4 separate regions of the Homo sapiens genome follow, and regions 2, 3 and 4 are each linked to region 1. Evidence: fine-mapped expression QTL. A gene starts in region 1. Each other region holds a variant in brackets. All regions are shown on one strand. Distances are between the middles of the regions. Region 1 holds the start of GAA (alpha glucosidase). Region 2 overlaps CARD14 (caspase recruitment domain family member 14). Region 3 has its middle 20 kb from the start of GAA. Region 4 has its middle 19 kb from the start of EIF4A3.

Region 1 (2,628 bases):
CAGGGTGAGCACTGAAATAAGAGCACGCTGGGGCGTCCACACCAAGGGACTACGCCCCAGTCTGCCCACCTATCTTTTCTCCATCATTAACCCAGCGCTCTTTCTCCCTGGACTTCCAAGTACCAATGACCTTGGGGCTTCTTTGCAGTTTAAAGGGAAAATGCTCTACAAAATAATTTCACTTTCAAACATTTCAGCAGAAGAATAAAATCTTTTTTCTGAATATCTAGTAAGCCTTTCTGAGTCAGCCTTACTTATTTTAAAACATTGTAGAAATACAGAAACCACAACAGAGGTGGAAGGGAGGCTTTTGTTTTTTTTTTTTTGAGACGGAGTCTCGCTCTGTCGCCCAGGCTGGAGTGCAGTGGCGCGGTCTCGGCTCGCTGCAAGCTGGAAAGGGGGCTTTTAATGCCCCTATGCCCCTACCCAGGAACAACACCTCTGTGTTTTGGTGTGGCTCCTTTTGTATTTTTCTGCACATACATTTTATTAGGCAAGTTAAGGTTATACTGTGTGTTTTTTGTATCTCACATGTAAAAATGTGCTCCTCTTAATGTAAGCATTTTCTCATTTTATGAAAAAATTCCCCCTGTGTCAGTTTAATGTTTTCTCAATTGTCAGTTTTATGGGTTATCACAATGTTTTGATTATTCCTTTCTGGAATAACTGTGAGTTATGGAGCACACTTAAGGACTTTCCAAATGTTGGCTGTTTCTAACTTGGCGCTGAGCGCCTTTGGCCGCCTTTCCGATGATGCCCTCGGGACGCGTTGGCAGGAGGAATCCCTGGGCGCAAGGCGCGGCTGGGCCAGCCCCTTACAAAGCCCTACGAGCTGCGGGGACCCAGGCCGGGGCAGCGGGGGCCACGCCCCATCTCCGACCCCACGGGGACCGGGCCGGGACTGCGCCAGCGGGGGCCTCGCCCCGTCTCTGACCCCAGAGGAACCGGCAGCGGGCAGCACGCGTGGGCCTCTCCCCGCGGGACGCCGGACGCGCAGCCAGACGCGCTCCCCAGGCCCCCTCCGAGAGCGAGGACGCGCCCAGGCCCGCTCTGCCGGAGCCGCCACTGGGGGGCGTAGCGCGGACGCGCACCCTTGCCTCGGGCGCCTGCGCGGGAGGCCGCGTCACGTGACCCACCGCGGCCCCGCCCCGCGACGAGCTCCCGCCGGTCACGTGACCCGCCTCTGCGCGCCCCCGGGCACGACCCCGGAGTCTCCGCGGGCGGCCAGGGCGCGCGTGCGCGGAGGTGAGCCGGGCCGGGGCTGCGGGGCTTCCCTGAGCGCGGGCCGGGTCGGTGGGGCGGTCGGCTGCCCGCGCGGCCTCTCAGTTGGGAAAGCTGAGGTTGTCGCCGGGGCCGCGGGTGGAGGTCGGGGATGAGGCAGCAGGTAGGACAGTGACCTCGGTGACGCGAAGGACCCCGGCCACCTCTAGGTTCTCCTCGTCCGCCCGTTGTTCAGCGAGGGAGGCTCTGCGCGTGCCGCAGCTGACGGGGAAACTGAGGCACGGAGCGGGTGAGACACCTGACGTCTGCCCCGCGCTGCCGGCGGTAACATCCCAGAAGCGGGTTTGAACGTGCCTAGCCGTGCCCCCAGCCTCTTCCCCTGAGCGGAGCTTGAGCCCCAGACCTCTAGTCCTCCCGGTCTTTATCTGAGTTCAGCTTAGAGATGAACGGGGAGCCGCCCTCCTGTGCTGGGCTTGGGGCTGGAGGCTGCATCTTCCCGTTTCTAGGGTTTCCTTTCCCCTTTTGATCGACGCAGTGCTCAGTCCTGGCCGGGACCCGAGCCACCTCTCCTGCTCCTGCAGGACGCACATGGCTGGGTCTGAATCCCTGGGGTGAGGAGCACCGTGGCCTGAGAGGGGGCCCCTGGGCCAGCTCTGAAATCTGAATGTCTCAATCACAAAGACCCCCTTAGGCCAGGCCAGGGGTGACTGTCTCTGGTCTTTGTCCCTGGTTGCTGGCACATAGCACCCGAAACCCTTGGAAACCGAGTGATGAGAGAGCCTTTTGCTCATGAGGTGACTGATGACCGGGGACACCAGGTGGCTTCAGGATGGAAGCAGATGGCCAGAAAGACCAAGGCCTGATGACGGGTTGGGATGGAAAAGGGGTGAGGGGCTGGAGATTGAGTGAATCACCAGTGGCTTAGTCAACCATGCCTGCACAATGGAACCCCGTAAGAAACCACAGGGATCAGAGGGCTTCCCGCCGGGTTGTGGAACACACCAAGGCACTGGAGGGTGGTGCGAGCAGAGAGCACAGCATCACTGCCCCCACCTCACACCAGGCCCTACGCATCTCTTCCATACGGCTGTCTGAGTTTTATCCTTTGTAATAAACCAGCAACTGTAAGAAACGCACTTTCCTGAGTTCTGTGACCCTGAAGAGGGAGTCCTGGGAACCTCTGAATTTATAACTAGTTGATCGAAAGTACAAGTGACAACCTGGGATTTGCCATTGGCCTCTGAAGTGAAGGCAGTGTTGTGGGACTGAGCCCTTAACCTGTGGAGTCTGTGCTGACTCCAGGTAGTGTCAAGATTGAATTGAATTGTAGGACACCCAGCCGTGTCCAGAAAGTTGCAGAATTGATGGGTGTGAGAAAAACCCTACACATTTAATGTCAGAAGTGTG
Region 2 (2,736 bases), 100 kb after region 1:
CCTGTACGCTGGCTGCTCAACAGCACCCCCTGGGTCCCGCCCCAGGACAAGTAAATCAGCATCTCCAGGGGTGGGCCGAGGCCCTGGAGTCTTTTGAAAGCTCTGGAGACTGGCATGGCCGCCAGGATGGAGCGCTCCAGCCTGCAGCAAAGGGATGTGTGGAGCTCTAGGTGGAGGCCCTTCTCTCCCACCCGGCCATCTCCCCCACTCTCCCCTGCTCGGCTCTCCCCTGCCCTGCTCACCTGGCAGGAGGCAGCTGGGTCAGGGCCTCTGCTGGTCTCTGCAGGGCTCAGCAGCAGCTCATAGCCCTCATCCAGGACATGACTCAGCAGTGCACCGTGACCCGCAAGGTGAGGCTCCAGGGAGGGGCCTGGACCCCACTGGGGTGGGCTGGAAGAGGGGCTCGGTGCTGGCAGGGTGGCAGGAGGCACTGTGTGGAGAGTGGGCTGCTGATTGGAGGGTAACCCCACCTGTCTCTCCTCTGCACCCCTTCAAACCAGGGCAGGGTCTGCAGCCCCTGCCCAGCCTGCAGGCTCTTGCACAAGTGCAGACACACCTCAGGCTGTTCTCAGAGCATCTGCGCCTCTGCATCACTCCCAGGTCGCCCTAGTGCCAATCATCTCCCCTGAATTCCCATTCCTGTTGATGGCTTCAACAGCTCCTCCTCATCCTTTCTCTGTCCCTCCTTTAGCCATCTTCTGGGGGACCACAGAAGCTGGTCCGCATCGTCAGTATGGACAAAGCCAAGGCCAGCCCTCTGCGTTTGTCCTTTGACAGGGGCCAGTTGGACCCCAGCAGGATGGAGGGTGAGGCCTGGTGAGCTGGCACAGGGGCCACTGGCTCCAAGTGGGTGAGGGGCTTTGGGAGCTGCTGCTAGTTGGTCAGCTGGGGCAGGGGGATGCCACTCATTTAGGCCAGGATCTGGTCTTCAAGAATCATGGGGCTGGGTGTGGTGGCGCACACCTGTAATCCCAGATACTCGGGAGGCTGAGGCAGGAGAATCGCCTGAACCCGGGAGGCAGAGGTGGCAGTGAGCCGAGATGGTGCCATTGCACTCCAGCCTGGGCAATAAGAGCAAAACTCTGTCTCAGGAAAAAAAAAAAATTTCAGGAGAGGAGTACAGGACAGAGGGAGGGCTAGGACCCTGTGCCCTGGAGGATGGCTGAGGAGAAGGGTGCCACTCTCCCAGATCCTTTGGAAGGAAGAAAACCCTGGCTTCCGCCATCCTCCCTTGGGCCTATAGGAAACAGGATTAAGTTGCAGGCTGCAAAGCAGTCCCTGGAGAGCCACAGAGCTGTGTAACCCCCGTGCAAAGGAGCCGCTCAGCCAGGGGCTATGGAACTGGGAGTGAGTCCTGTGACCGCTGAGCCTGTGCCCCTGGAATTCTAGGTGCTGGGGCTGCTGCAGTGAGCAAAGCAGACCCAGTCCCTCCCGGGGCAGGGTAGGCTGGCT[G/A]GGGGCTGCCGCAGCCTCACCCACCCTCAGGATCCTCTCCTCCACAGGCTCCAGCACGTGCTTCTGGGCCGAGAGCTGCCTCACCCTGGTGCCCTATACCCTGGTGCGGCCCCATCGACCCGCCCGGCCCCGGCCTGTGCTCCTCGTGCCCAGGGCGGTTGGGAAGATCCTGAGCGAGAAACTGTGCCTCCTCCAAGGGTTTAAGAAGTGCCTGGCAGGTATGCTGTTGCCTGGGAATCCCTCTACCCCTTCCACCTTCCCTCCCTCCCTCCTCCCCTTCCTCCCTCCTTCCTCCCCTTCCTCCCTCCTCCTTCCCTCCCCCACCACGCACATTCCCACACTCACCTGCTGTGTCCAGATAGTTCAGGATGGAGGTGCAGGGCACAGAGCGGGGTGTGCAGGGTCAGGTTTGTAAAGTGGACATCCTAAGAAGAGCTTCTCCCAGTGCTGGCAGGGTTCACGGGGACAGGGGTGTTTACCATGGGACTCCCCCAGACCCCCACACAGCTGGTCTATGATGGCCCCGTCCAATGTCACCTGTAGAGTACTTGAGCCAGGAGGAGTATGAGGCCTGGAGCCAGAGAGGGGACATCATCCAGGAGGGAGAGGTGTCCGGGGGCCGCTGCTGGGTGACCCGCCATGCTGTGGAGTCCCTCATGGAAAAGGTGAGGTCAAGGGCGGGGTGGGCAGGGGAGCTGTCCTGGGAAGGGTTTCAGGAATGCAGAGGAGGGGGATGAGATAAAGGTACAGGGACCGACCTGAGACCTGGGTGACCTTGTCGCCGACCTCTGGGTCCCAACAGCCCAGCAGGAGCCCAAAACTCATCTCAGCCAGTTAGGATCCACGTGACTGTGGGTGAGGTCTCCCAACTCCTTGAATCTCAGTTTCCTCAGCTTGGGGGATGTTTAATAGATATTTGTTCGAGAATGAATAAATCCGAGCTAACAACACTCTCCACGTTTGAAGGCGCAAACGCGTGAAAAGCAGCTCCCCGTGAACCACAGCTTTGTGTCTGCACAGGCACGGGAAGCCGAGTCTGGCATCTGCGTGCCTCCTGTAGGGGCTGGCGGAGCTCCATGCCAAGTTCACCTCATCCCCAGAGCTCACAATTTCTAGATTTTCCCAGTGAAAAATCAAAGGGATGGAAACTCTTAATACTGCATAGCACACAGCCTCATTTAGAAAGTGGCAAACTCAGCTGGGCCTGGGGCTCACGCCTGTCATCCCAGCACTTTGGGAACCCGAGGTGGGAGGATCGCTTGAGCCCAGGAGTTCAAGACCAGC
Region 3 (2,628 bases), 20 kb after region 1:
CCCCTCCCCTCCCCTCCCCACCCCACCTCACCTCCCCTCCCCTTCCCATGTCACCTCCCTTCCCCTCCCCACCTCCCCTCCCCTCCACTCCTCACCTACCCTCCCCATGTCACCTCCCCTTCCCTCCCCACCTCCCCTCCCACCCCACCTCCCTTCCCCTCCCCTCCTCACCTGACCTCCCCTTCCCATGTCACCTCTCCTCCCCTCCCAACCTCCCGTCCCCATCCCACTTCACCTCCCCTCCTCACCTGACCTCCCCTCCCTATGTCATCTCTCCTCCCCTCCCACCGCACCTCCCCTCCCCTCCTCCCCTCCCCTCCTCCCCTCACCTGACCTCCCCTCCCTACCCCACCTCACCCCCTCTCCCCTCCTCACCTCCTCTCCTCCTCTCCCCATTCATCCTCACACTCCTGCTTCCCCCATCTCTAAGGTGACTGGGGAATGTCCAGTGGGTGTTAGGCATGTGGTGGGAGTGTGGCCCCCAGGGCTGTGTAGACAACAGGACCCTGCAAGGAAGGGGCTTTCCAACAGTGGGGCCTAAGACTTTAGGCAGAGGCCAGAAATCTGTCCCCAAGTGATGCAGTTAGAGAGGATTTCAGGCCCAGGTTCTCCCTGGCAAGCCCAGAGAAAGGGAAAGAAGCCCATTTTATTGAAATAACAGCAGGAGAAATCACTGCCCTTAGCCAGTCAGACGCTTCAGTTTATCACTTAGAATTAATGCAGTGGCTCACACCTGTAATCCCAGCACTTTGGGAAGTCCAGGCGGGCAGCTCACTTGAGGTCAAGAGTTTGAGAGCAGCCTGGCCAACATGGTGAAACCCCATCTCTACTAAAAATACAAAATTAAGGCCAGGCGCAGTGGCTCACGCCTGTAATCCCAGCACTTTGGGAGGCTGAGGCAGGCGGATCACGAGGTCAAGAGATGGAGACCATCCTGGCTAACATGGTGAAACCCCGTCTCTACTGAAAATACAAAAATTAGCTGGGTGTGGTGGCACACACCTGTAGTCCCAGCTACTTGGTCTCGCAAGGCTGAGGCAGGAGAATCGCTTGAACCCGGGAGGCGGAGGTTGCAGTGAGCCGAGATAGCACCACTGCACTCCAGCCTGATGACAGGGCGAGACTGTCTCAAAAAAAAAAAAAATTAGGCATGGTGGTGTGTGCCTGTAGTCCCAGCTACTCAGAAGGCTGAGGCACAAGAATCACTTGAACCCGGGAGGCAGAGGTTGTAGTGAGCCAAGATCGTGCCACTGCACTCCAGCCTGGGCGACAGAGTGAGACTCCATCTCAAAAAAAAAAAAAAAAAGGCCAGGCGCGGTGGCTCATGCCTGCAATTCCAGCACTTTGGTAGGCCAAGGCAGGCGGATCACGAGGCCAGGAGTC[C/T]GAGACCAGCCTGACCAACGTGGCAAAACCCCATCTCTACTAAAAATACAAAAATTAGCTGGGTGTGGTGGCACGCGCCTGTAATCTTAGCTACTCAGGAGGCTGAGGAAGGAGAATTGCTTGAATCTGGGAGGCGGAGGCTGCAGTGAGCTGAGATCACGCCACTGCAGTCCAGCCTGGGCGACAGAGTGAGACTCCATCTCAAAAAAAAAACAAAAGAAGTGGCCAACCCCGAAGTCCTCTGCAGAGCGATGGATTACTTTTGCCACCTTCCTGAAAACCAGGAGCAGAAAGTACAGTGACTTCCCCGTGGAGCAGCATGACATCCCTGGGGGGCAGTGTGTCTACCTGGGTGACCAGCACTATTGTCTTCTGGGTCAGCTTTTGTAGAAGCGGACACTGCTCTTCTGCCATGTCACAGGCCAGGGCCTGACCCCCGTGTGCCACTTTTACCATCCAGATTGACATCACTAAGTCATCTCGCGCCCTAAAGTTCCTCTGTAAGGTGGACGTAGTAGTGACAATAACATATGTTACTTCCTCCCCTCATCCTAGTCCCATGTGGGGTTAAGAAGCAGGAATGTTTGTCTTGAGGCCAGCAGCGTGCCTGGTCTCGGTGCTGAGGGCGACCTGCCCTAACGCTCTGCCAGGCTCGCCAGGTCTGCAGTTGACACCCAAGACGTTCAGGGAGGGTTGATGGAGCGTGGTAGCCTCGGCCAGCCTGGACCGACCATCAGCGTCCTCACCTTCTGTGCCACCGCCCAGCCTGGCAGGGCCACTGTAGCCTTAGCCCCTTGTAGGATCTGACCCTTCCTTGGCTGCTGTAACGAAATACCCAAGACTGGGTAATTTATAAACAACAGAAATGGATTTCTCACAGGGCTGGAGGCTGGGAAGTCCAAGATCGAGGCAGGTTCTGTGTCTGGTGAGGGCTGCTGTCTGTATCATAAATGGCGCACTCTCCATCATCGTGGTAGAAGGCGAAGACAAGCTCCCTTGAGCGCTAAATGCCACTGATGAGGATGGAGGGCCCTCAGGACTCATCACCTCCCAACAGCCCCACCACTTTTTTTTTTTTTTTTTTTTTGAGACCGAGTTTCACTCTTGTCACCCAGGCTGTAGTGCAATGGTGCAATCTTGGCTTATTGCAACCTCTGCCTCCCAGGTTCAAGTGATTCTCCTGCCTCAGCCTCCCGAGGAGCTAGGATTACAGGCATCCGCCACCATGCCTGGCTAATTGGATCT
Region 4 (2,736 bases), 27 kb after region 1:
GGACAGGAGGAGTTCTTGAGCAGGAGTTAGAGACCAGCCTGGGCAACACAGCAAGACCCCATCTCTACAAAAAGCAAAAAATTAGGCCGGGCGCGGTGGCTCACGCCTGTAATCCCAGCACTTTGGGAGGCCGAGGCGGGTGGATCACGAGGTCAGGAGATCGAGACCGTCCTGGCTAACACGGTGAAACCCCGTCTCTACTAAAAATACAAAAAATTAGCCGGGCGTGGTGGCGGCTGCCTGTAGTCCCAGCTACTCGGGAGGCTGGGGCAGGAGAATGGTGTGAACCCGGGAGGTGGAGCTTGCAGTGAGCTGAGATCGTGCCACTGCACTCCAGCCTGGGTGACAGAGTGAGACTCTGTCTCAAAATAAATAAATTTAAAAACTAAAAATAAAAAAATAAAAAATTAGATGCATGCAGCAGCACATGCCTGTGGTTCCAGCTACTAAGGAGGCTAAGGTGGAAGGATTCCTTGATCTCAGGAGGTCGAGGCTGCTGTAAGCTATAACTGTGGCCACTGCACTCCAGTGTGGGTGACAGAGCTGGACTATCTCAAAAACACACACACACACACACACACACACACACACACACACACAACCAAAAATCATTATGCTTTCCCCATAAAACTGCTTAAGTGCCTTTGTTGGAAATCCATTGACCATAAATGTGTAGTCTTTCTGAACTTTCTACTGTTTTCCCTGGATCTACAACAGGTCTATATTTATGACTATACCACACTGCCTTTGCTACTGTAGCTTTATAATATTTCTTGGTATGAGTAGTAGCTTGGTGCACTTTTCCAAAGTTGTTTTGGCTATGCTAGATCCTTTGTATTTTCATATAACTTCTAGAACTAGCTTGTCAATGTTTAGCCCTATCCCCACTCTCCCAAAAAAGGCTTCCTGATATTTTGGTTGGAATTGTGTTGAGTCTGTACATCAACCTGGGGAGAACTGATGTCTTAACAATATCGACTCTTCCAATCTGCTCAGTGTATCTCTCATTTATTTACATCTTTAATTCTCACAGCAACGTTTTGTAGCTTTCAATTACAGAGCTTGCTCATCTTTTGTCAAATATACCCCCAAGTATTTCATGTATTTGATGGTACTGTATATGGTGGTGTTTTCCAAATTTCCCATTCCAAGTGTTCATTCCTGGCATATAGGAATACAACTGACTCTTCTATATTGACTTTGTAGAATGCTACCTTCCCGAAACTCAATTATTAGTTCCAGTAGCTTTGTGGTAGACTCCTTAGGATTTTCTACATAGAGAAACATATAATCTGTGAAGAAAGCCTTCTTCCTTTCCACCCTGGAGGCCTTTTCTTTCTCTTGCCTTGTTGCACTGGCCAGAATCCACAGTGTAATATTGAACAGAAGGGAGAGGACACCTGTGCCTTGTTCCTGAGAGGGTTACTGAAAGCCCCAATTGCCACTGTGGATTTGTCTATTTCCCCTTGCAGTTTTATCCATTTTTCCTTCCTATATTTCCTGTATTTTGAAGCTGTTATTAGGTGCATAGGTATTTAGTATTGTTATATCCTTTTAATGAATTACCCCTTTATCATTATCAAATGACTCTCTTTGTCCCTTGCAATATTCTTTGCTCTGAGATCTCCTTTGTCTAATATTAATAGAGCTGCTTCAGGTTTATTTTGATG[T/G]GTGCGTTACCATGGTGTATTTTTCTCCATCTTTTCACTTTTGTCTTTATATTTCTCATAAGCAATAGTATATAGTTGTGTATGGCTTTATAATCCAGCCTAACAATATCTGTCTTTTAATTTTGCAGTAGGCAATTTGCTTGTTTTCCCTTGCTCGTGCTTTTTGCTTTTTAAGTGTAATTTTAGAGGATGCATGAGATTCCTCATGATATTTGTGCTGAGATGTAATTCACATGCCATAACATTTACCATTTTAAAGTATGCAATTCAGTTGTTAGTACACTTGTACAACCATCACGATTATCTAATTCCAGAACATTAGAATCACCTTCAAAAGAAACCCTATACTCATTTTCAGCCACTCCTTGTTTCACCCATCCCCCTCCTCCCCCCTCAAGCTCCTGAAACCACTGTGAATGGTTTCCTGCTAATCTCTCTATGGATCTACCTGTTCAGGACGTTTCATGTAAATGGAATCACACCACGTGTGGCCTTTTGTGTCTGCCTTCTTCCACCTAGCATATTGCCGAGGTTCATCCAGGTTGTAGTGTGTCAGCACTTCATGCCTTTTTATTGCCAAGTAATATTGTGTGGATTCACCAGTTTTGCTTACAGCTGATGAACATCTGGCTTGTGTCCACTTTTTGGCTCTTATGAACAATGCTATGAACACATTAGGTTTATGTGTGCAGATTTTTTAATTCTCTTGAGTATAGACCTAGGAGGAGAATTGCTAGGTCAACTCCTATGTTCAACATTTTGAGGAACTGCCAAGCTGTTTTCCATAAAGGCTGTGCCTGTTTACAATCCCACTAGCAATGTATGGGGGTTCCAGTTTCTCCACATTCTCCTAAACACTGCAGAGCAGTATATTAGTCCATTTTCATATTGCTATAAAGAACTGCCTGAGCCCGGGTGCTTTAAAAAGGAAAGAAGTTTAATTGACTCACAGTTCAGTGTGGCTGGGGAGACCTCAGGAAACTTACAATCATGGTGGAAGGCGAAGACGAAGCAGGAACCTTTTTCACAAGGTGGCAAGAAGTGCCAAGTGAAGTGGGAAGAGCCC

The links. PIP is the estimated chance that this variant, and not a neighbour inherited with it, causes the effect.
Region 2: its variant is fine-mapped to the expression of GAA in lung (TOPMed, PIP above 0.99). The same link has a PIP of 0.9 or more in blood mononuclear cells.
Region 3: its variant is fine-mapped to the expression of GAA in nasal epithelium (TOPMed, PIP above 0.99).
Region 4: its variant is fine-mapped to the expression of GAA in monocytes (Fairfax 2014, PIP 0.95).

What each region holds. Positions count from the first base shown.
Region 1 is chr17:80,100,381-80,103,008 of GRCh38, forward strand. GAA (alpha glucosidase) reads left to right here and starts at 1,201. Exons shown (of 20, transcript NM_000152.5): 1 at 1,201-1,510. CCDC40 (coiled-coil domain 40 molecular ruler complex subunit) reads left to right here. Exons shown (of 20, transcript NM_017950.4): 20 at 1-233. RefSeq lists a silencer at 748-1,367 and an enhancer at 1,698-1,807.
Region 2 is chr17:80,203,536-80,206,271 of GRCh38, forward strand. CARD14 (caspase recruitment domain family member 14) reads left to right here. Exons shown (of 24, transcript NM_001366385.1): 19 at 287-350; 20 at 692-806; 21 at 1,500-1,670; 22 at 1,996-2,117. It also overlaps a transcript of SGSH not described here. Among named protein-coding and RNA genes, the nearest start is that of SGSH, 15 kb to the right of the region's middle. RefSeq lists an enhancer at 1,051-2,250. The variant G/A (reference allele first, on the strand shown) is at 1,453.
Region 3 is chr17:80,120,323-80,122,950 of GRCh38, forward strand. No RefSeq gene overlaps it. Among named protein-coding and RNA genes, the nearest start is that of GAA, 20 kb to the left of the region's middle. The variant C/T (reference allele first, on the strand shown) is at 1,384.
Region 4 is chr17:80,127,085-80,129,820 of GRCh38, forward strand. No RefSeq gene overlaps it. Among named protein-coding and RNA genes, the nearest start is that of EIF4A3, 19 kb to the right of the region's middle. The variant T/G (reference allele first, on the strand shown) is at 1,671.